Linked DNA regions of Homo sapiens: region 2 is linked to region 1. Evidence: fine-mapped expression QTL. A gene starts in region 1. The other region holds a variant in brackets. All regions are shown on one strand. Distances are between the middles of the regions. Region 1 holds the start of TBC1D12 (TBC1 domain family member 12). Region 2 holds the start of NOC3L (NOC3 like DNA replication regulator).

Evidence for each region. PIP is the estimated chance that this variant, and not a neighbour inherited with it, causes the effect.
Region 2: its variant is fine-mapped to the expression of TBC1D12 in blood mononuclear cells (TOPMed, PIP 0.95).

Annotation. Positions count from the first base shown.
Region 1 is chr10:94,396,749-94,408,731 of GRCh38, forward strand. TBC1D12 (TBC1 domain family member 12) reads left to right here and starts at 5,793. Exons shown (of 13, transcript NM_015188.2): 1 at 5,793-6,836. The coding sequence starts at 5,866. RefSeq lists enhancers at 5,541-5,700, 7,001-7,300 and silencers at 6,031-6,520, 6,591-6,920.
Region 2 is chr10:94,358,233-94,370,215 of GRCh38, forward strand. It overlaps NOC3L (NOC3 like DNA replication regulator), which reads right to left and starts at 4,707. Exons shown (of 21, transcript NM_022451.11): 1 at 4,598-4,707; 2 at 3,433-3,640. The coding sequence starts at 4,606. RefSeq lists enhancers at 1-379, 380-1,045, 4,381-4,640 and a silencer at 4,781-4,910. The variant C/T (reference allele first, on the strand shown) is at 7,372.

The DNA.
Region 1 (11,983 bases):
AAACAGCTGGACATAGTGGCTCACGCTAAGTTTTGTATTTTTTGTAGAGATGGGGTTTCATCATATTGGTCAGGCTAGTCTCGAACTCCTGACCTCAGGCGATCCGCCCGCCTCAGCCTCCCAAAGTGCTGGGATTACAGGCGTGAGCCACAGCATCTGGCCCAACCATCAATTTTTAAAATGTCACAAAAGGACAAGCCAGGTGCAGTTATGCCTGCCTGTTAATTCCAACTATTTGGGAGGCTGAGCCAGAATGCTTGCTTGAGCCCAGGAGTTCAGACCAACCTGGGTAACATAACAAAACTCAGTCTCTAAAGTGAAAACAATTTTTTTAAAAATTTAAATTATGAAAGGAAAAGTGTAAATATAAAATCCATCATTTTCTTTTCCTGTCTATCTTTTTTTTATCTTTATCAAGCTAGATATGCAGTTTCATACATCATTGTAATTATGGTATGCAATTGTGTATCTCTACTTTTTATTATTATTTTGTAAAACATCTCCATATTTCTGCATTCTGTCATTTTAATTGTATTCATAATGTTTCATCGATATACCTAGTTTTTCCTACGGTTTCATATTATTGATTATTTAGGTGATTTCTAGTTTTTAACTCTTAAACTTTTTGCTATCAGCATTTTTTTTTTTTTTTTTGAGACGGAGTCTCTCTCTGTCGCCAGGCTGGAGTGCAGTGGCGCGATCTCGGCTCACCGCAACCTCCACCTCCTGGGTTCAATCGATTTTCCTGCCTCAGCCTCCCGAGTAGCTGGGTCTACAGGCATGCACCAGCACGCCCAGCTATTTTTCTGTATTTTCAGTAGAGATGGGGGTTTCACCACGTTGGCCAGGATGGTCTTGATCTCTTGACCTTGTGATCCACCTGCCTTGGCCTCCCAAAGTGCTGGGATTTCAGGCATGAGCCACCGCATCCGGCCGCATCAGTGTGCATTTTTAACCATTCATCTGTCTCTTGGTTTGTGGCAGTCCCACTATGGCTTACCAAACAGCAGCTGCCTCGTGATCTTACTATCATTCATTTCCCACACATATCTCACCCTGCTGAGTTAATCTGCAGTAGGCATCCTTTCAGTACTTGTTATCTAACTATAATCTGCAACCTTAGTCTAGTCACCCTCTCTTACCAGCTGGGGTTTTACCAGGCACGCATGGAATTTAAACTATTTACAGAAGTTGAAGATTTCAGTAGCAAACCAATTCGCATAGTCTTATAAAAATTGTACATTCCACTGCTTTACAAAACAGAATGTACTAAATGCCATTGAATTGTACACTTTAAAATGGTTAATTTTATATTATGCAAATTTCACCTCGTGTAAAAAAACAATATACGAGATGTCTGGACATAAGGATTGTAATACGATGGTAAAAATGAGGGTAGCTGCAGGAGTCTAATCTCAATCTTTTATCTTTTCAACCTTTGTCGTTTGCCTAAAGAATTTATCTTGCAATTTTCTTTCTGCTGTCAAACATTTCCTAACTTATTCATGATCTCAGCTCACTGCAGCCTCCACCTCCCAGGTTCAAGTGGTTCTTGTGCCTCTCAGCCTCCTGAGTAGCTGGGATTACAGGAACGTGCCACCTTGTCCAGCTAGTATCAAAATATGTGTACATAAAAATAAAAATTGTCCAGACATCTTCTATATTGCTTTTTTACACTTGAGGTGAAATTTGCCTAATATAAAATTAACGATTTTAAAGTGTACAATTCAATGGCATTTAGTACATTCACAGAGTTGAACAACTATCACCTCTATCTAGTTTCAAAATACGTGCCTGTTCACCTCATTTTCATTCAATTCATTTTATACTCCCAAAAACCTTTATATCCATTAGATAGTCACTCTCTATTTGTCTTTTCCCTCAGTCATTGATAATCACCAATCTGCTTTCTGTCTCTATGGATTTATCTATTCTGGATATTTCATAGGAATGGAATTATATGTTATCTATTTTTTTTTAAGAGATGGGGTCTTGCCATGTTGCCCAGATTGGAATGCAGCAGCTATTCACAGGCATAATCATAGTTCACTATGATCTTGAACTTCTCGGATCAAGAGATCCTCCCACCTCAGCCTCCCGAGTAGCTGGGACTATCCAGGTACACACCACCACAGTGCTTTTCACATTCATCCACCTTGTAGCATGAATCAGTATTTCTTTTCTTTTTCACGTCTGAGTAATATTTGGTTGCATGGATATACCATATTTTGTTTATCAGTTCCCCTGATGATGGACATTTGGGTTGTTTCCACCTTTTGGTTATTATTGGTAATGCTGCTGTGAACATTCATGTAAAACATTTTTTTTTTTTTTGAGACGCAGTCTTGCTCTGTCGCCCAGGCTGGCGTGCAGTGGTGTGATCTCAGCTCACTGCAAGCTCCACCTCCCAGGTTCAAGCGATTCTCCCTGCCTCAGCCTCCCAAGTAGCTGGGATTAAAGGCACGGGCACCACTGAGCCAGGCTATTTTTTTTTTTTCCTCGAGACGGAGTCTTGCTCTGTCACCCAGGCTGGAGTGCAGTAGTGCGATCTCGGCTCACTGCAAGCTCTGCCTCCCCAGTTCACGCCATTCTCCTGCCTCAGCCTCCTGAGTAGCTGGGACTACAGGTGCCCGCCACGACACCCGGCTAATTTTTTGTATTTTTAGTAGAGATGGGGTTTCACCGTGTTAGCCAGGATGGTCTCGATCTCCTGACCTCGTGATCCACCCTCCTCGGCCTCCCAAAGTGCTGGGATTACAGGCGTGAGACACTACGCCCGGCCTTTGTATTTTTTTAGTAGAGATCGGGTTTCACCATGTTGGCCACGATGGTGTTGAACTCCTGATCTCAGGTGATCCACCTGCCTCGGCCTTCCAAAGTGCTGGGATTACAGGCATGAGCCACTGTGCCCAACCCACGTAAAACATTTTTGTTTGAACACCTGTTTTCAATTCTTTTGGGTATACACCTAGGAGTAAAATTGCTGGCTTATAAGTAATTCCATGTTTAACTTATTGAGGAACTACCAAACTGTTTTTCATGGAAGCTGCACCATTTTACATTTCTACCAGAAATGTATGAAGGTTCTAGTTTTTCCACATTCTTTTCAACATTTGTTTTCTATTTTTTTGATTATAGACATCCTGGTGAGTGTGAAGTGCTATCTCATTGTAGTTTTGATTTGCATTTCCTTAATGACTAATGATGTTGAGCATCACTTCATATGCTTATTAATATTCCATTAACATATGTTTCTTAGGAGAAATGTATATTCAAGTCCCTTGCCCATTTTTTTAGTTGGGTTGTTTTTCAGTTGTTGATTTATACAAGTTCTTTATTTATTCTGGATACTGCACTCTTACCAGATATACAATTTGCAAATATTTTCTCTCTTTTTATATTTTTTCCACTCGTGTCCTGAAAGTCATTTTTTCCTTCTGAAATACCTTGATAATAAATGCATTGCTGACTATGCCTTTGCCACTTAGTCCTTTCCTAGGGCCTTCAATAACGCTTATTTTCGAAGACACTTGATGTTTTTATTTTGTTGAGACAGAGTCTCCCTCTGTCGCCCAGGCTGGAGTGCAGTGGTGCGATCCTGGCTCACTGCAAACTTCGCCTCCTGGGTTCAAGCGATTCTCCTGCCTCAGCCTCCTGAGTAGCTGGGATTACAGGCGCCCACCACCACGCCCGGCTAATTTTATTTTATTTTATGCTTTTATTTTTAGTAGAGATGGGATTTCACTATATTGGCCAGGCTGGTCTTGAACTCCTGACCTCAAGTGATCTGCCTGCCTCTGGCTCCCAAAGTGCTGGGATTACAGATGTGAGCCACCACGCCTGGCCTCTTGATGTTTTTTTAAATTGAGTGTTAGGTACATGCATGCCCATTTTATTGACATTTTATTATATAAAGGTTATATTCCCTCTTATATCTGTATGTATAGGTATTTTTATATGAAATAAATTTTAAATGCTTGACAATAATGTCTCCTCTACGACTTCTATTTTCTGTTCTTGCATTCACTAACATACTTTTAGAATGAATGAGTGGTCTATATTCTATATACTTTTATAGAATGAGTGGTCTATATTTTCTGCTTCGTTTTATCCACAACTGATGCCTCTTCAATTTCTTGCAATACAACTTTTTTGTCCTGAAATAATGAAACATTTGGGTCTGTGCCCGACCCTTATCATTATTCTTTCTTCCTAGGTAATGTTACTCATGATTCATCCACCTACTTGCATTATACAGATGACGCCTAATCTGTGTCTCTGAACCTAAACCCTAACCCAAGTTTTATTATTTATTTATTTGAAACAGTTTCCCTCTTGTTGCCCAGGCTGGAGTGCAGTGGTACGATCTGGGCTCATTGCAACTTCAGCCTCTCGGGTTCAAGCGATTCTCCTGCCTCAGCCTCCCAAGTAGCTGGGATTACAGGTGCCCACCACCATGCCCAGCTAATTTTTCGTATTTTTAGTAGGGACTGGGTTTCACCATGTTGGCCAGGCTGGTCTCGAACTCCTGACCTCAGGTGATCCACCTGCCTCGGCCTCCCAACGTGTTGGGATTATAGGCGTGAGCCACTGCGCCCAGCCAACTCAAGTTTTAGAACTCTATATGCTGGATATTTTCAGTCGTTTACTTTACCAGATGTATTTCCCCTATTAATCGTTTTTTTCCTATCCACTTTTCTATTTCTTCAAACCATATCAGTTTCAGTCTCATATCTTTGTAGTAATCATTGGTTACTCTCTCTTCTGTCACTTCTGATCAGTTATCAAGTCTTTCGTCTTTTACTTTAAATATACTTCATTTCCACTCAATGGTCAATCATCCCATTTTAATCCACTATCGCAGAGTGCTGGAATTATTTCAATAGCTCCTCTCTGCCTGACCACTTCCTCTCCCTCCTTAGGTGATAATCTTTTTTTCTTGTTTGAGACGGAGTCTCGCTCTGTCGCCCAGGCTGGAGTGCAGTGGCGCGATCTCGGTTCACTGCAAGCTCCGCCTCCCGGGTTCACGCCATTCTCCTGCCTCAGCCTCCCGAGTAGCTGGGACTACAAGCGCCCGCCACCATGCCCAGCTAATTTTTTTGTATTTTTAGTAGAGACAGGGTTTCACCGTGTTAGCCAGGATGGTCTCCATCTCCTGACCTTGTGATCCACCCGCCTCGGCCTCCCAAAGTGCTGGGATTACAGGCGTGAGCCACCGCGCCCGGCCGGTGATAATCTTTTAAACAGAGGACTGTGATGAAACATGGTGCTAGGTGAGCAAGATAACTTAGGATATCTTTCTTTTGTGTTAGATGAAGTGAAGAAGGGAGGGTGTTGACCCTCCTGGATGAAGTGATGAAGCCCTGAACTGTGGCAATGATGCCGGAGAAGGATGTAAAAATCGTAAAGTCGACTGGTGACCAATTAGAGCTGGAAGGACTTACCCACGCTAACACCTCCCAAATATGGGAGTATTTTACTACCATAAATGAAATACATCAAGTGAATTTTTGCTAAGCGAGCAATACCCGCGCTTCGGTAAGAACTGTCACGCTTAGAGCGGGCCAACCAGCTTCCACCATCCAGATGGCGGATCCTAGATTGGCAGCCTGCGTCTCTCTAGCTACCGTCTCTATGGTTCGGGGAATCTCCAGGTCGGGGCTTGACCGGTCCGACTTTTGCGCGTGCGCGAGTCCTGGCGCGTGCCCGCCCTCAAGCAACTGTCCGACCCAGCGGGTGGGAGGGGTGGGTCTGGGAACGTTGCGGCGGCTGTCGCCGCGGCCCCAGCACCCAGAGCTGTTCTCTGGCCAAGCCTGCGCCTGTAGTCCTTCTTTGCCTCCTGGGGCGGCCGCCACCCACCCCCAGATGGTGGGTCCGGAGGATGCCGGAGCCTGCTCGGGAAGAAACCCCAAGTTGCTCCCGGTGCCTGCGCCGGACCCCGTGGGCCAGGACAGGAAGGTAATCCGGGCCACGGGCGGCTTTGGCGGAGGCGTCGGCGCTGTGGAGCCGCCGGAGGAGGCTGACGAGGAGGAGGAGGCTGACGAGGAGGAGGAGACGCCGCCTCGGCAGCTCCTTCAGCGTTACCTCGCGGCGGCCGGGGAGCAGCTGGAGCCGGGGCTCTGCTACTGTCCGCTCCCCGCTGGCCAGGCCGGCGCCCCGCCGCCCTCGGCAGCCCCACGATCGGACGCCTGCCTGCTGGGCTCGGGCTCCAAACACCGCGGCGCGGAGGTGGCTGATGGCCGCGCGCCGCGGCACGAAGGCATGACCAACGGCGACTCGGGTTTTCTGCCGGGCCGGGACTGTCGCGATCTGGAAGAGGCTCGCGGGCTGGCGCGCGCCGGCGGCCGGGAGTCGCGCCGCCGCCGCCCCTACGGCCGCCTTCGCCTGGAGGGGCCTGGCGACGAGGACGCGGACGGCGCGGGAAGCCCGTCCGATTGGGCCTCTCCGCTTGAGGACCCGCTGCGGAGCTGCTGCCTGGTGGCCGCGGACGCCCAGGAGCCCGAGGGCGCGGGCAGCGACTCGGGGGACAGCCCCGCCAGCAGCTGCAGCAGTAGCGAGGACTCAGAGCAGCGGGGAGTCGGCGCCGGGGGTCCCGAGGAGGGCGCGCCCCCTGCCACCTCGGCCGAGAGGACTAATGGGGGTGCGGAGCCGCGCCTGGGCTTTTCTGACATTCACTTCAACTCTCGCAACACGTTCCAGGTGAGCCGCGGTCAGAGCGCCCGCGATCACCTGCCCCCGGCGGGGCCGCCGGTGCCCTTGCCCGCCGCGGAGCAGGGTCCTGCGGGGGCTTCGGCCCGGGCTCGACGGAGTGGCGGCTTCGCGGACTTCTTCACCAGGTACAGCGCAGGCTGCATGGGACTCGGGGCGGGTCCGGGGCCGGGGCCGGAGCCGGGGTCTTGGTGGGAGTCGGAGCCGGAGCCGGAGCCGGAGCGGAGAGCTTGGTCGGCCGCTTCCGTGCCAGCCCCACACGCGTCAGGACTTAGCTTTGATTTGTCACTGGAGGAAGAGGAACTGGGTCGGCTTTGTGTTTCTATAGGAGAAGTTGTGAGCTCTGTGGACAGCGAGTCTTTCTGTTGCCTTGTCCGCGGGAGGCTGTACCTGCCATTCATACCTGGCTTCTGAGCAGTCAGGTTGGGCCAGCTGTCTAGTGCCACATATGCAGTTGCCTTTTCTGGAAAAGCAGATAACCATCTCCGTCTCCAATTTTTAAAAATTTTACTACAAACATTTAGGTTGTTGGGGGGGTGGTGAGGGGAGGCGGTATGTGTGTACGGGTGTGGTTGTGAAAGAGAGAAGGAAGTCATTTTGTAGAGCTGTTTATTTGCTGTGCTTGCATAGCGTCTAAATCCATTCAAGTGGTTTGGGAATTCTTGAAATTAGAAGTGGTTGTGCTTCATAGTGTTTAATCGTTTGTTTCAGTGGTCTTTATTAAAATGCAGTTTGGTGTTTAGAATTTTATCCCAACTTTTTAAGCCAAAGTAGGGCTTTTACTAAGGAAAGCCTTTTTTCTAATCTCCCAGATAAGCCTCTCCTTTTTTTCCCCAATAACTTTAGTTTTTTTAAAAAATGGTATTGTATTTGTGATTTGACAGGATATTCTTGAAATTAAATTATGGGCCGGGCGCGGTGGCTCACGCCTGTAATTCCAGCACTTTGGGAGGCTGAGGCGGGCGGACTATTTGAGGTCAGGGGTTCGAGACCAGCCTGGCCAATGTGGTGAAACCCGGTTTCTACTAAAAATACAAAAATTAGCCAGGCGTGGTGGCAGGTGCTTGTAATCCCAGCTACTCGGGATGCTGAGGCAGGAGAATCACTTGAACCTGGGAGGTAGAGGTTGCAGTGAACCTAGATCGTGCCATTGCACTCCAGCCTGGGGGACAAGAGCGAAACTCCGTCTTTCAAAAAAAAAAAAAAAGAAAAGAAAGAAATTAAATTATGGTGCTGGACTTCGCAGATTTCAGGATGGAGGTTTGTTGATTTAATAGGGATAAATAAGAGTAGTCAGAAAATACTTAATACACCTTACTGTAAGAGCAGTCCTGTAATCCCAGCACTTTGGGAGGCCGAGGTGGGTGGATCACCTGAGGTCAGAGTTCGAGACCAGCCTGGCCAACATGGTGAAACCCCGTCTCTACTAAAATATACAAAAATTAGCCGGGCATGTTGGCAGGCGACTTAATCCCAGCTACTTGGGAGGCAGAGGCAAGAGAATCGTTTGAACCCAGAAGGCGGAGGTTGCTGTGAGCTGAGATCGAGCCATTGCACTGAAACCTGGGGAATAAGAGCTAGACTTCTCTCAAAAAAAAAAAAAAAAAGGCAGTTTTCCTTGAGTTAGATTTTGACACGCCTTTTTCTTCTTCTTCTTCTTCTTTTTTCTTAAGTCCCCAGGCAAATAGGAAAATATTCCCAACTTGTAAAACTTTCCTTTACAGAGTTCTCCCTACTTTGTTTTTCTACCTTTTCGGGGATCTTGACTATAACCAGAAGTGAAAGAAGCAAATTCTTAGCTCAAGTTTTAGCAGGTTATACAATTAGCGTACATATTGTAGACATAAAGGCACAATTTTCTGATTATAATTGATATTTCTTATTCCTCTTTCTAGTTTATCCTTATTTTTTTGCTTGTATAAATTTACAAATATAAAGTTTCTTAAATCAAAAGTGGAAAATCCTAATTTTTTGTTACTCAGGACAATATATGTAGTAATGACATCTGTATTTGTAATATAGTTGCAAAAATATATTTAAAGCTTGTACTGGCAGTATTCTAAAAGATCTCAAGGTGAGTTAGGTTTATAAATTTGTGACACTGTGTGGCCTTTGGGTGTTTGTTGGTCATATCTATCTTGGTCATGTTTTGAGGTCAGATGTCAGGCAATTTTAGATCTGGGAGGGGCTTTGGAGATAACAAATTCAACTAGTATACTCTTGAGTTCTTGCTCTCTGCCATGCATTGTGAATAGAGATGATTTAGAAAACTGTCCCTTACCTGCAGGTGGGGTGCAGGCTAATGGGGATTAAGTTTGAAGACAGATGCATATATATACATTGCAATTTCTGAACATTTTTTTTTTTTTTTGAGATGGAGTTTCCCTCTTTTGCCCAGGCTGGAGTGAAGTGGTGCCATCTTGGCTCACTGCAACCTCTGCCCCCCTGGGTTCAAGTGATTCTCCTGCCTCAGCCTCCCAAGTAGCTGGGATTACAGGCACCCGCCACCACGCCTGGCTAATTTTTGTATTTTTGGTAGAGACCAGGTTTCACCATGTTGGCCAGGCTGGTCTTGAACTCCTGACCTCAGGTGATCCACCCGCCTCAGCCTCTCAAAGTGCTGGGATTACAGGTGTGAACCACTGCCCCAGCCAACAATGTTATTTATAGGAGGCTTTCATATTATTAACAGTAGGCAGGAATTTTATTTTTTCTTTCATTTCCCATGTGTTTTAAGTAGGCAGGAATTTTGATTTAATTTGTAAATTTTTTTTACTTATAGACTAATAGAACTTAATATAGCTAGATGACATTCATATGGCCACATTATTCATATGTGTCAGAGCACTGGATTTGAAGTCAGAAAACAGGTGCCCTAAAGTTAATTTCTCTAAGCCTCATTTTTCCTGATAGAGGTCTGAATGTCAAGACTCTAGGAGTCAGTGCTTCCTTTATATGACATTCTTGGGAAAGAAAGGGCAGAGTCAGAGAGGCACAGTTTTTCTTAAATGAATTCTGAACACCTTAAAGGCAGGAACTGTGACATTCATCTCTGAATCTATAATACCTAGCCACTGGTATGAAGAACACCATTCAGATTGGGTTGAATAGGTAGCTTTCATGGATTCCCTTTTACTGTGCTCTAGCTAGGTAGTGTAATTTTGAGCAGAATCTCCATCCTCAGTGAAAATAATCAGAAATTACCCCTGTCTCACAACACAACCCAAGAGATCCAACCCTACCCCTAAATGCATAGTTGCTATTCTCAACTCTGAAGCTCCAGGTGAGGGCTCTCTTTGGAAGTGGCTTGTTTGGGATGGAATCTTGTTCTTGGGTGCAACCCTTACTCCCACTTCATTTTTTTAGATGAGGAATCTCATTGTCTAAAGAAGGTAATTTAGTTAGCTAGTGGCATGCTGGGATTTGAAACCAGGATTCCTGATTTCCCAATCCATGTTTATGTTCAGTCTACAACCTTTGTTCACTTTATGGCTCTTTTCTCTCCCACCTATTTATCCTCCATGCTTTCCTTCTTCTTCCCTTCCCACTTCGTTCTTCTCTTTCCCTTAATTAGGCAAAAATCTATACGAGAAACCTTAAAAAAAAAACAGTTTTATGTTTACTTAAGTAAAGAGGGGGGAGCATTTTACACAATGTATCTATTACTACATAGTATTATGTTAAGACACATCATTTTGGTAGATATATAGGAAAAACAGGAATTCATTTAGAATATGACTGCTTTCATTTGGAGGGCCTTAGTGGTCATCTCCCACTTTCCTTCCCTTCCACATGAGGTGAGTTCTATTTCAGTCCCTACTGGGGGCTTGCTTCAGCTTCACATGGACACCTTTCTGTGTTTATGGTGACTTGGCTGTCAGAGCCCTAAAAGTAACATTCCCTCAGATCCTTGACCCTTTCCTGTCTATAAAAATTGAAATGCAGCTGGGCGCAGTGGCTCACGCCTGTAATCCCAACACTTTGGGAGGCTGAGGCGGGTGGATCACCTGAGGTCAAGAGTTCGAGACCAGCCTGGCCAATGTGGCGAAACCCTGTCTCTACTACAAATACAAAAAAATTAGCTGGGCGTGGTGGTGGGTGCCTGTAATCCCAGCTACTAAGGAGGCTGAGGTAGGAGAATTGCTAGAACCCTGGGGGGAGGTTGCAGTGAGCTGAGATCGTGGCACTGCACTCCAGCCTGGGTGACAGATTCCGTCTCAAAAAAAAAAAAAAGTTGAAATGCTAGATGGGTACCACTCAGCAGTAAGGAGGAGTGAAAGCTTTTTTGAAGTCTTTTGTGTTTCCAAGCTTGCCTTAATTCCCCAAAGATCCATTTGTTACTCTTTTTAAAAAATAGTTCTAAGCTGGGCATGGTAGCGTATGCCTGTAGTCCCAGCTACTCTGGAGGCTGAAACAGGAGGATTGCCTGAGTCCAAGAGTTCAAGGCTGCAGTGAGCCATGATTGAGTCACTGCACTCTAGCCTGGGTGACAGAGTGAGACCATGTCTCTTAAAAAAAGTTCTAAACCGTTTTTGTGGGTTCTTCAAGTAAATTCATGTCTTGTTTTCTAAGTAGAATGGTTTATTTTTTACATAGATAGACTCTTTCATAGTTTTCTGTTTGTTTGTTTTTAGGCCATTTAATAGTTTTGAAGCTTGTTAGGATTGCATTGGCATAGTTACTGTTTTTAAAAACATAGACACTTATCTGTGTTTCCTGGTAGTGCTGATTTTTTTTCCCAAGTCTTTATATGAATTTGGTGAATAAAGGGCATTGCTAAGGTAGGGAAGGAATAATTGGAGATTTTTTTCCCTTTATCTGAAAAGAAAATTGACTTTATAGATTTTGAAACATACAGATCCATGTGGCTTTCTCTGTAGTTGTTGACTTCTGAAACTTCCTAAATATTGTGGCAAAAGCTATTTTCACAGAGCTCTTTTTACAATGGTTGGGTTGAGTAGGAAAAACTAAAGGCTCTTTTAGTGATTTCTTTTTACATCTAGATAGTCTCCATTCTCCCTAATATGAAAACCAATGAAGTTTTTTTGTTTTTATTAAATATGACATGGAAAAATCTAAATTCCTATAGGTATAGTTTTTTCTTAATTTAAGGTTCTCAGAAACAACAAAGTCAGCCACGTCCTTTTTTCCACCTAGAATTTGTGCTAGTTGACAAAATCATAATTCATCCATCTGACTGAGCCATCATAAACATCTCTGTCCTATAAGTCTCCCTTACTTGTTCCATAGTGCCTCCACCAGTCAACTAAAATAA
Region 2 (11,983 bases), 39 kb before region 1:
ACACACAAAGAAAAATTAGAAACAAGTATCAGAGATGTAGAACTCTCTGCATTTTGGGTTTAAACAGGAAAAGCTTACGCTTTCTGAAGCAATCCTCCCACTCCAGCCTCCCAAAATGCTGGGATTACAGGGAGTGGGCCATGGCTCACAGCTGAGCCCAGTGCTTCTAAATGGAAGAACTACTGATATGCTAGGCAAACAATTCTTTGTCGTACTGGGATGTTCTGAGTCTGGAAAAATGCTAGCATCTCTGACTCCTGCAATCTAAATGCCAATAGCATTCCCAGGTTATTGTAACAACCAAAAACTAAATGTCTCCACATACTCTGAAATGCCTTTCAGGACGTTTGGAAACCAATGACTTAGCCCCTCAGCTCCTTCTCATCTCCAATTACTTTCACTTCGTATTCCATTTCAGCCAGCCTCTCTAATGGCCACATTCCAAACCCTAGTGCTCACCCCTCTCTCTGACCACAAGCTTTTATCCTTCCAGCTCCCATTCAGTTACTTCCACAGCACTTCTTCCTTAACCAATTATGTAACCTTTCAATCCACTGACCACTCCACTTTCTATCTACCTGTGTGTTCTGTCTTCACTCCCTCACTTAGACTGCAAGATTATCACTTCAACCACACTCTTGCCAATATCCTCAACTATTTTTCTTTCAACACTTCAGGCACTCACATCTAACAAAATCCCAACAACAGATCATTCTAACTTCTCTTTCTGCTCACTGTCTGCGTCTTGCTCTCTTTCTCCATCTCCTCTTTTTATTTAAAAAAAAAAAAAGTCAACTAAGTGCCAGGCACTATTTGAAGTGCTGAGGATTCAACTATGAATAAAACAATCTTAGCATCTTTCCTAGTAGAACTTACAATTCTTCCTGACCCATTAAAACTCGTAAATCTTGGCTGAGCGCGGTGGCTCACACCTGTAATCTTAGCACTTTGGGAGGCCGAGACGGGTGGATTGCTTGAGGCAAGGAGTTCAAAACCAGCCTGGCCAACATGGTGAAACCCCATCTCTACGAAAAATACAAAAAATTAGTGAGGCGTGGTGGCACATGCCTGTAATCCTAGCTACTTGGGAAGCTGAGGCAGGAGAATCACTTGAATCCCGTAGGCAGAGATTGCAATGAGCAGAGCAGAGATTGCAATGAGCAGAGCAGAAATCGCCACTGAACTCCAGCCTGGGCAACAAGTGTGAAACTCCGTCTCAAAAAAAAAAACAAAAAAAGACCCTAGTAAATCTTGCTATATAAATGTACACACTGCACAGAATGGCACTCCTATCTACTTTAAATGAGCCTTCTAAATTTAATAATCCCATTAAAAAATGGGCAAAAGATATGAATAGACATTTCTCAAAAGAAGACATACAAATGGCAAACAGGTATATGAAAAGGTGCTCAACATCATTGATCATCAGGGAAATGTAAATCAAAATTACAATGAGATATCATCTCATCCTAGTTAAAAAGGCTTTTATCCAAAAGACAGGCAGTAACAATGCTGGCAAGGATGTAGAGAAAAGGGAACTCTCATACACTCTTGGTGGGAATGTAAATTAGCACAACCACTATGGAGAAAAGTTTGGAAGTTCCTCAAAAAACTAAAACTAAAAATGGAACTACTATATAATCCATCAATCCCACCCACTGCCAGGCATGAATCCAAAAAAAAGAAATCAGTATACCGAACAGATATCTGCACTCCCATGTTCATTCAGCACTATCCACAAGAGCCAAGATTTGGAAACAACCTAAGTGTTCATAAACAGATGAATGGATAAAGAAAATACGGGGCCAGGCGCGGTGGCTCACGCCTGTAATCCCAGCACTTTGGGAGGCCAAGGCGGGCAGATCACGAGATCAGGAGATCAAGACCATCCCAGCCAACATGGTGAAACCCCGGCTCTACTAAAAACACAAAAATCAGCCAGATGTGGTGGTGTGCGCCTGTAATCCTAGCTACTCGGGAGGCTAAGGCAGGAGAATCACTTGAACTGGGGAGTCGGGGGTTGCAGTGAGCCGGGATCGTGCCACTGCACTCCAGCCTGGCAACAGAGAGAGACTCCATCTCAAAAAAAATAATAATAATAATAATAAAAGAAAATATGGTACATGTACACAATGTAGTATTATTCAGCCACAAAAAAGAATGAGATCCTGTGTGCAACAACATGGATGAAACTAAAGGCCATTATGCTAAGTTAAACAAGCTAGGCACAGAAAGACAAATTTCACATGTTCTCACTTATTTGTGGTAGCTAAAAATTAAAACAACTGAACTCATGAAGAGAGTAGAATGATGGTTACCACTGGCTGGGAAAGGCAGTTGGAGGAGATAGGAGTAGGGATGGTTAATGGGTACAAAAATACACTTAGAAAAAGATCTAGTATTTGATAGATAGGATGACTATAGTCAACAATAATTTATTTTATGTTTTAAAATAACTAAAAAAGTATAACTGGATTGTTCGTAACACAAAGATAAATGCTTGAGGTGATGGATACCACATTTACTCTGATGTGATTATTATGCATTGTATGCCTGTATCAAAGTACCTCATGTATCCCATAAATATATACACCTACTATGTACCCACAAAATTAGAAAAAAAAAAAACTTTAGCTGGGTGCTGTGGCTCACCCTTGCAATTCCAGCACTTTTGGAGGCTGAAGCAGGAGGACTGCCTGAGCCCAGGAGGTCAAGGCTGTAGTGGGCTATTTTTGCACACTGCACTCCAGCCTGGGTGACAGAACAAGACCCTGTCTATTTAAAATAATAATAATAATTTTTAAAAAATGGACCTGAGAAGACTGAATAGTTGTCTAATAATCTGATATAGTCAAATAAGAATACCCTAAAAGTACCAGCAAAGTTGTAGAACTAGCCTGACTCAAAATAGTCATATTCCTTACAAGTTTTGAGTACTTAATAATTTTTAGATAGTTTTACAAAATAACCATGACAATTACAACTCAATTTCACCCCAAGTTTCCACATGAAAAGAAAGTCAGAAGTTTAGAAGTGTACCTTGGCAATACTGTGAAGAATGAACCAGAGACAAGCAATGTTCTTACCTTACCTAACTGCTGGTGAATGGCAAAGTGGCAGCACTGGCACACTGCCCAATATTTATGTAACGGAGTACTTTCAGTTTGTTTTCCCAAGTAGTGCATCTTCAGATCTGCCTTCCAGACAAACTAAAAGCAGAAGCTTGAATGAATACTGTATTGAAATGTTTTCTCATACTGACTGTGATAAAGCATATATGCTTTATAGCAGTCCTATAGGACTACTATCCTTACCCACTCTAGGAAGATCTGAGAACAAGAAAAGCGATTACTAGAAAGCAAAGTTATTTCCATGAAGAACACTTCAGAATAAATCAATGGAAACCAGAGCACATGATGTTTTCACAATTACCTGGTCGCTTTTCCTTTGGGTTCTCCAATGGAATGGGTTTCTTAGACACAGCATCTTTCACAGCTTGCCTTAGTTTCCTCTGTTCTTTTCGGTACTTCTTGAGAGTGCTTTGTTGTTTAAACTGCTTATTTTTTAGCTTGTTTTCAAGTTTGACTTTACTAGTTTTTATTAACTTGCGAAAGCTTGGGATCTGTTTTTTATTTCTTCTCTAGAAAATAACAGAAAGAATACTGCATACCCAGAAACTTATTTTTTAAATCAGGTTAAAGAGAACTGATTACAAATTTCATTAGACCAATTCCACAATTTCAATGTCCCACAGCCACAGACTTGCATATAAAAGCTAAAACCAAACGATGGCTTTAATCCTACAGAAGAGCGCTACAGCATCAGTTATTCAATCCCAATTCACAGCAATTCAAAGGGTTCTACGATCCCCAAACAGGTTAAGAACCACTGATCTAGTAGTGGTAAGTGGCTATTCAAGGCTAGTTTAACACACCTGTAGTTTAACACATTCAAAGCAAAATGCTGGCTGTCTTTAATAAAACTTACATTTATCTACGATTTTATTACTTACAAAGTGCTCCAACAAATCACCTCTAACAGCCTAGTTGAGTACTGACTGCTGTTATCCTCACATTACTGATGAAGCTGCCAAAAGACCCATAAACTAAGGAGGGCAAAACTGAATTCGGATCTTTGGATTCCACTTCTCTTGCTGGTGACTCATTCAGAAATCCCAAAGTTAGTCCTGAACCCCAGGACTACCTCTTATTTTCTGGGAGAACCAGGACAAATCACTTGCTTTTCTATCTCTTTACCCTTCATGGGTACCGTGACTCACATTATAAACTCGCTGAGGGTAGGACCCTGCTTCTCATTTGTGAAAAACGAGTTCGAAAGACGGTCTTGAAAAATTCCTTCAAAGTATGAAATCCCACGCATGCAAAACTCCGTGCCTGTCTCTTCGTGATACTCTGAAGTGGTGCGCGCACACAGTGGGTAACCAAGGATGAGCTCGGTGTAAGGAATGGAAAGCCCCCAGTCTAAACCACCGCCCCCTAGACACGGGTGAAAACCTGCCTAAAAGCTAACTCAGGCAGTGACTCTATCACCCGAAGGGGCCCTAGGCCGCGGCGACCGGGCTTTTGAGGACACTTACCGCCTTCATCCTTAGGCCTTAAATGAATGCCGGCCAGACAAGTTCACCAGAAGCAGGGTTACTACAGAAATCCCGGGGAATGACACACGTGCCGAAGTCCCTACACTACCAGAGCCGGAAACGGCCTTCAGTCCCTCCCAATCCTCCGCCGCCGGAAGTGAGGGCGGGACTTCCGTAGACAGGTTCGGGCTCGCGCCCTCTCGCGGTGACTGTCTCGCGGCCCTGGACCGGTTGCCCCCCGGCGTGCGCGCGCGGACTGGCACGAGGGAAGCCCCGAGGGCGTCGGTGCCAAAGGCGGGAAGCCGGGCGGGAGGGGCGCATTTTGCAAGGTTATCTGAGTATGATTCTTTGACTCTCGCCCTATTTATTTCTTTTAAAACCTTGGGGAAATCGGGCTCCTCCTCTCAGAATGAGAGGACTTGGTTTTTTCGGTCACCTCATTGCATTTTGTGCCTCTCCTCACGTTGCTTATCTCATGCTGTTATAGATACTGATTTTCGTAGTCTTTTTCCTCCATACAGTCCTGAGGGCAGAAAGAAGCTTATTTTTTGTGTGTAATGCCTGCCCCTCGACGGACATTCTGGCCGTGTTTGTAGCATGGCGAATGATTTCTCATCAGCCTTGGTCACTTAAAAGTCTGTGATTCTTAGTGTTTTATTTTGCATTTTTTTTTTGCTTTAATTTTTAACCATTAGCTGATAAAGAACTGTATCCATGGCTGGGTGCGGTGGTTCACGCTTGTAATCCCAGCACTTAGGGAGGCAGAGGCGGGTGGATCACCTGAGTTCCAGGAGTTCGAGACCAGCCTGGCCAACATGGTGAAACCCTGTCTCTACTAAAAATACAAAAATCAGCCAGACATGGTGGCGTGCGCCTGTAATCCTAGCTACTCGGGAGGCTGAGGCAGGAGAATCGCTTGAACCCAGGAGGCAGAGGTTGCAGTGAGTCGAGATCACACCACTGCACTCCAGCCTGGGTGACAGAGCAAGACTGTCTAAAAAATAAAAATAAAAATAAAAAACTGTATCTGCATTTCAGTATCTTACAACTTTGGGTAAATTCTGTCTGCTTAGTAATTTCACCAAAGTCGTTTTTTGTTTTTGTTTTTTGAGACGGAGTCTTGCTCTGGCGCCCAGGCTGGAGTGCAGTGGCGCAATCTGGGCTCATTGCAAGCTCTGCCTTCTGGGTTCACGCCATTCTCCTGCCTCAGCCTCCCGAGTAACTGGAACTACAGGCGCCCGCCACCACGCCCAGCTAATTTTTTTTGTATTTTTAGTAGAGACGGGGTTTCACCGTGTTAGCCAGGATGGTCTCGATCTCCTGACCTCGTGATTCGCCCACCTTGGCCTCCCAAAGTGCTGGGATAACAGGCATGAGCCACCGCGCCCCGCCTAAAGTCGTTCATTTTTACAGGAAGTTTTATGGATTGCAAGAATAAGAGTATCAAAGTGCTTGTCTCTCAAAGACTTTTTTTTCTCAATAAATTTAAGCATTCCACTTCAAGTTTTTTGTGGGTTTTTTTGAGTCTATGATTTTTGAGCATGGCCCTGACACAGAGTCTGGCCTCGCAGTCCTGAGCAGGTGGGAAAACCCAGTAGTGCGGCTCAAAGGGTTCTGAGCCCCTTGAATAGTGTTGCTCTTAGAGAGACTGAGGGAAAAAAGTACCAATTTCCTGATCCCACCACAAAGACCAAGAGGTCCATCTGGCACTCTTCTTTCAACCTCCCTTCCAACTTCTTCCTTGCTCTGTCTCCTTCCACACAGTGTCAGAAACAGCAGAGCCTGTCCCGCTGGAGTATTACTTCATCAAACAAGTGGAAAACATCAGCCTGTGCTCTTCCCAAGTGCCTGAATTCCCTCCCAAGCATATCAACATATCTACAGTCACTCCCATCCTTTTAGCCTTCCTTCCAGTCTCTCCAAGGATGAGGCATCCCCATTCCAGTTCAAAACCAACTCCTCCCAGCTTCATCAGATTCTTGTATCATTAATTATCCCTTCTTTCCTGTGTTCTTTCCCTCTCTAATAGATCCTTCCCCTCAGCTTATAAACATATTCAAATCTCTTCCATTTTTAAGATTTGTTCTAATAAACTTATCTCCCTTTAATTGCTCTTTTATGTGCCTCTTTTCCTACTTGTCCCTACTTCCAGAAAAAAGTATTCTTTTAGCGTCTCCACTTTCTCTTCTCTATTGTCATAGCCCAATCCTGTGCTAGTATTTTCTTTTTTAATATAAAGATTGCCTTTTTTTATTTTTTTTCTCTGTTGCCCAGGCTGGAGTGCAGTGGCAGCTCTCAGCTCACTGCAGCCTCAACCTCCCAGGCTCAAGGGATCCTCCACCTCAGCTTCCTGGGTAGCTGAAACTACAGGCACGCACCACCATGCCCGGCTAATTTATATTATTTGCAGAGATTTGGTCTTGCTATACTGCCTAGGCTGGTCTCAAACTCCTGGGCTCAAGCAGTCCTCCCACCTCAACCTCCCAAAGTGCTGGGATTACAGGCATGAGCCACCATGCCCAGCATGTGCTAGCTTTTTTAAGAACTGTGTCATACTCTTGGCCCATTTTAAGTTTACAATCAACTAAAATCTCTGGATCATTTTAAAGCAATTGTTGCCAAGCTAAATCTCTCCCATCTTGAATTCGAGCAGCCTGTTGTTCGAAAATACTCAAAAATGGAAGTTTATATGATTCCTTTTAATTCCATTTAATCTTGCTGGTTTCTTAATTCTGTGTGTCCACCTTTGTGTCATCTCTTCTTCACTCAATCCA[C/T]TGCCAAGCCCCATTTGGACTCCAGATCCTCTTAGATCCCTTAGAGCTTTCCTGGACACTTGAGCTGATAAGGGTCACTGGGCTTTCCCAAACTAGTATCACAGGGATTGTACCTGGAGATTCCTGTTAGCACTTTCAGGAAGTCTGTTAAGAACTTACGTGGCTTTGCCCATAACATTCCGCTGAAACTGATCTAATTAAGGTCACCAAGAACCTCCAAAGTGTTGTGAGTTTTTTCTAATTGTGTACGGAATTACATTACTTCTTTCTCATTTAACCTCACTAGATCTCTCTGCTGCCTTTGATGCTACGCGTATCTCCCTTCACACATTAGAATGTTGATTCCCTTGGCTTTCCTAATAGCCTGTTCCCCAGGTTCTCCTCCTACCTCCATTTCTTCCTCCTTAGGCTTCTTCAATGTAGGTGACTCTCAGGGTTCTACTCTTGGCCCACTTGTCTACCACTCTTCTTGCTCTACTTGCTTTTCCAGCGTGATTTCATCCATCTACCTATTACAAAGAGATTTTGTCCAGCCTATACTTCTTCCCCAAGCTTCATTCTTATAGCCATCTGCCTCCTGGACAGCTCTACCTCCTAACCATGGGACTTCACATTACCATGTTCAAAAGAACTATTTTTTTTCACTTGTACCTCTTGTAACATTCCCTATTTCTTTCTTTTACCCACAGCTAGAATCCCAAATACTCCAGAGATCTTTGTCAACAAGCAAGGGCTTTCTTGGCCATTTACCGTATTATAATTAATCCATTTTCTATAAACAAACAGTTTTGAAAACTGTCACTAAGTGGACATGGAATAATAAACAAGGCTTCTTTTTTTCCAGTACCACAAGATAATTTACATAAGTTATAATAAGGGACTATATGAATGTTTGTCACTTTGTAGTAAGTGTTTGGCGATAGAAAAAGCCCACACTTCAGTATCACAAATTAGAAAATAAACATCGTAATTGGATGTTATCACTGTCAATCATCTTAGACATAAAAGAGGCAGGCAGGTTGCCCTACAGCTCACCCAAAGGGGACCTGTGGAAATTAGAAAAAGCTTCCATGTCCTTAAGACACTTCACTGTCATAGATCAAAAAAAAAAAGTTTGCTATCTTTACAAATAAACTGTGAATGACGCCCCTGGAATTGTACAATATACAGTCCTCCCTTATGTCGAAGTGCTTGGCTCTGCCTAGGCCTCTTTCTGTTTCCCTTCCTAAAATTCAGGGGAAACAAAAACAAAACTAAACTAAAGTAAAATAAAATCCAGGGGAGGGAAGGAGTCTAGAATCTCTGTTCAGACCTTTGAGATAGTGCTACAGCCAAGGGGAAAAAAAAACAACTCACTATCAGAGAGCTAAAAAAACATAACTGTAATATTTAAGTAATATTTAGATATTACTGTCCAGGCATTGTGGCTCCTGCCTGTAATCCCAGCACTTTGGGAGGCTGAGGCAGGAGGATTATTTGAGGCCACGTGTTCAAGGCTACAGTGAGCTATGAGGGTGCCACTGCACTCCAGCCTGGGCGACAGAGTGAGGCTATCGCAAAAAAAAAAAAAAAGAAAGGATTTGAAAATACGTATATCATGGTCTCTACCTTTGAAAATGTTAAAATATTGTTGAGAAATTGTGTGTGTGTGTGTGTGTGTGTTTGTGTGTAGTTGAGAATGATAATTATGAATTACCAAATAGAGAATAATAGAAAAGATCACATAGGTGCTAAAAAATAAAGACAAGCTGCTTTAGAGGAAGTCATAGAGCAATGTATACCTAAATGAGAACAGGAGAAAGGACAAAGTTTAAATAGATGGTATAATTTGTTCTAAGCAAGGTCACTCAGGTAGTACAAATAATTTATATTGTGGTGCATCAGAAAATTAGGTTAAGATAGCTAATAATTATAATTAATTATTAAATTAAAAGTATTAACCAAAAACCAAAATAATAGCAAACATTAGAATAATGATGTAGCAGATTTTTTGTCCTGCTGAACCCACAGCTTGAATCACCCCAAAAGCAGTGGTAGGCCAGGAATTAGTGGCTTCAGTGAGTTATGATCTCACCACTGCACTCCAGCCTGGGCAACAGAGCAAGACTCCATCTCAAAAACAAACAAAAGCAGCGACAGGGAAGTTCCCACAACGGTGTGTCCCAAACTGTCTTGAGAAAAGGCCCCCAGTTGGGATGCCATAGAAAGAAGCATTTTTTTTTTTTTTTTTTTTTGAGACAGAGTTCACTCTTGTGGCCCAGGCTGGAGCGCAATGGCACGATCTCAGCTCACCTCAACCTCCGCCTCCCGGGTTCAAGTGCTTCTCCTGCCTCAGCCTCCTGAGTAGCTGGGATTACAGGCATGTGCCAACATGCCCGGCTAATTTTGTATTTTTAGTAGAGACAAGGTTTCTCCATGTTGGTCAGGCTGGTCTCGAACTCCCAACCTCAGGTGATCCGCCCGCCTCGGCCTCCCAAAGTGCTGGGATTACAGGCGTAAGCCACTGTGCCTGGCCGAAAGAAGCATTAAATGCCGGGGTGATCAACCCAAAACAATTGTTAGGAGAACTTACCTACAGAGTGCTGTGGCAATCCTCATGATGGACAGTGAGAGAAAAGGGGTGTGGACCTAGGTATGTCCACAGTGAGGGGGTCAGGGTACGGAGTTTATATGAGGGTTTAAGGTATGTGACTCAGGGCCTGAGCCAGTACTTTCAGTGTTTTGGGCAACAACTTAGATACTTTTACCAGTGCCTGGGACTGTTCAAAGCCCCAGTTTGTGTTGAAGCCTGCTGGGATGAACCTGCAGATGGCTAGGTCACAGAGCAGTCAAGGCACTCTAATTTTTTATTCAGGACACAGAAAGAAAGCCGCAAGGGGCTGTGCGGGAGGTCTCCTGGGGGCCCTACACAAATGTTGTTGGTGTCTCGTCTACATATCCTCAGTACTTCGTGTTCCATACATGCTGAAAAAGTCCTCTGAGCACTTGCAAATTTTCACTTAAGGACTTTTTCTGGACCCCTGTAGGGCAGGTCTGAAGTGCCACAGATTTTTCCACTGGAAGCATCCTCAATCAACAACAAATGGTAATTGAAGGATAACTATAGCAATTGTGGTAGGCTGAAACATGACTTCCAAATATATGAAGGCTAAGTCCCTGGAAACATGAATATTAACTTATACAGGCAAAGTTGTGATTAAGTTAAAGATTTTGAGATGAAATGATTATGCAAGTGGGCAATCACATGAATCCATTTAAGAGACAGGAGATTTCACACAGACAGACAAGAAGGTAATGTGACTACAATAGGCAGAGATTGGAGTGATGTAGACAAGTCAAGGAATTCTAGCAGCCACCAGAAAGGGGAAGAGATAAAGAACAAACTCTCCCCTAGAGCTCAGTCCAGTGATATTAAGTTCAGACTTGCAGCCTCTAGAACTGTGAGAGAATAAATTTCTGTGTTTTAAGCCACCAAATTTGTGATGATTTGTTACAGCAGCCATAGAAAGCTAATATACCAATAAAATATAACAAAAACATACCAATGTCCTTAATCCTCAGAGGTAGAACACCTCTAAGGCAGCGCTCCCCAGCCTTTTTGGCATCAGGGACGGGTTTTGAGGAAGATAATTTTTCCACAGATCAGGGTGGGGGATGGTTTCAGGAAGAAACTGTTCCACTTCAGATCATCAGGCATTAGTTAGATTCTCATAAGGAGCGTCCCACCTAGATCCCTCAAATGTGCAGTTCACAGTTGGGTTCAAGCTCCTATGAGAATCTAATGCCTCCACCGATCTGACAGGAGGCGGAGCTCAGGCAGTAATGTCACTCACCTGCCGCTCACCTCCTGCTGTACAGCCCAGTTCCTAACAGGCCGCGGACTGGTACAGGTCTGTGGTCCCAGGGTTGGGGACCCCTGCTCTAAGACATCTTCCACTTTGTCTCCCAAAGATTGAGTTCCACCTGCAGAGATATCCTACTCATCAGCACACACTATTAGTGTCCTTTGCTTCCCTGCCTCACAACCCCACCCTGCTAGAAATGGTTCCTGGACTCACCTTCAAAATAAACCACTTGCACTCAAGTCCTTATGTATCTGTTTCCTTGGGCTGCCGTAAAAAAGAACCAAAAATTGGGTGGGTTAAAACAACCAAAATGTATTATCTCACAGCTCTGGAGGCAAGGTGTCTAAAATCAAGATGTTGGCATTGTTTGTTTATGTTTAGGGCTCTGAGGAAGAATCTGTTCCATGCCTCTGTCCTGGATTCTGGTGACAGCTGGCAATCCTTGGCAATCTTTGGCTTGTAGATGCATCAATCCAATCTCTGCCCCCATCTTTACATATTATTCTCCATGTGTCCCTCTGTCTTCACATGTCTGTCTTCCCCTCTTATAAGGATACTAGTCATATTGGATTAAGGGCCCACCCTAATGACCTCATGTTAACTTTATTACATCTGCAAAGACCTTTCCAAATAAGATGATGTTCATAGTTACCAAGGATTAGGATTTCAACATATCTTTTTTTTTTTGGAGGGGGGACACGATTCAACTCAAGATCAAATTCAGAGGACCCCAGCGTACCACTTATTTAGGTAATTTTTATGTTTCC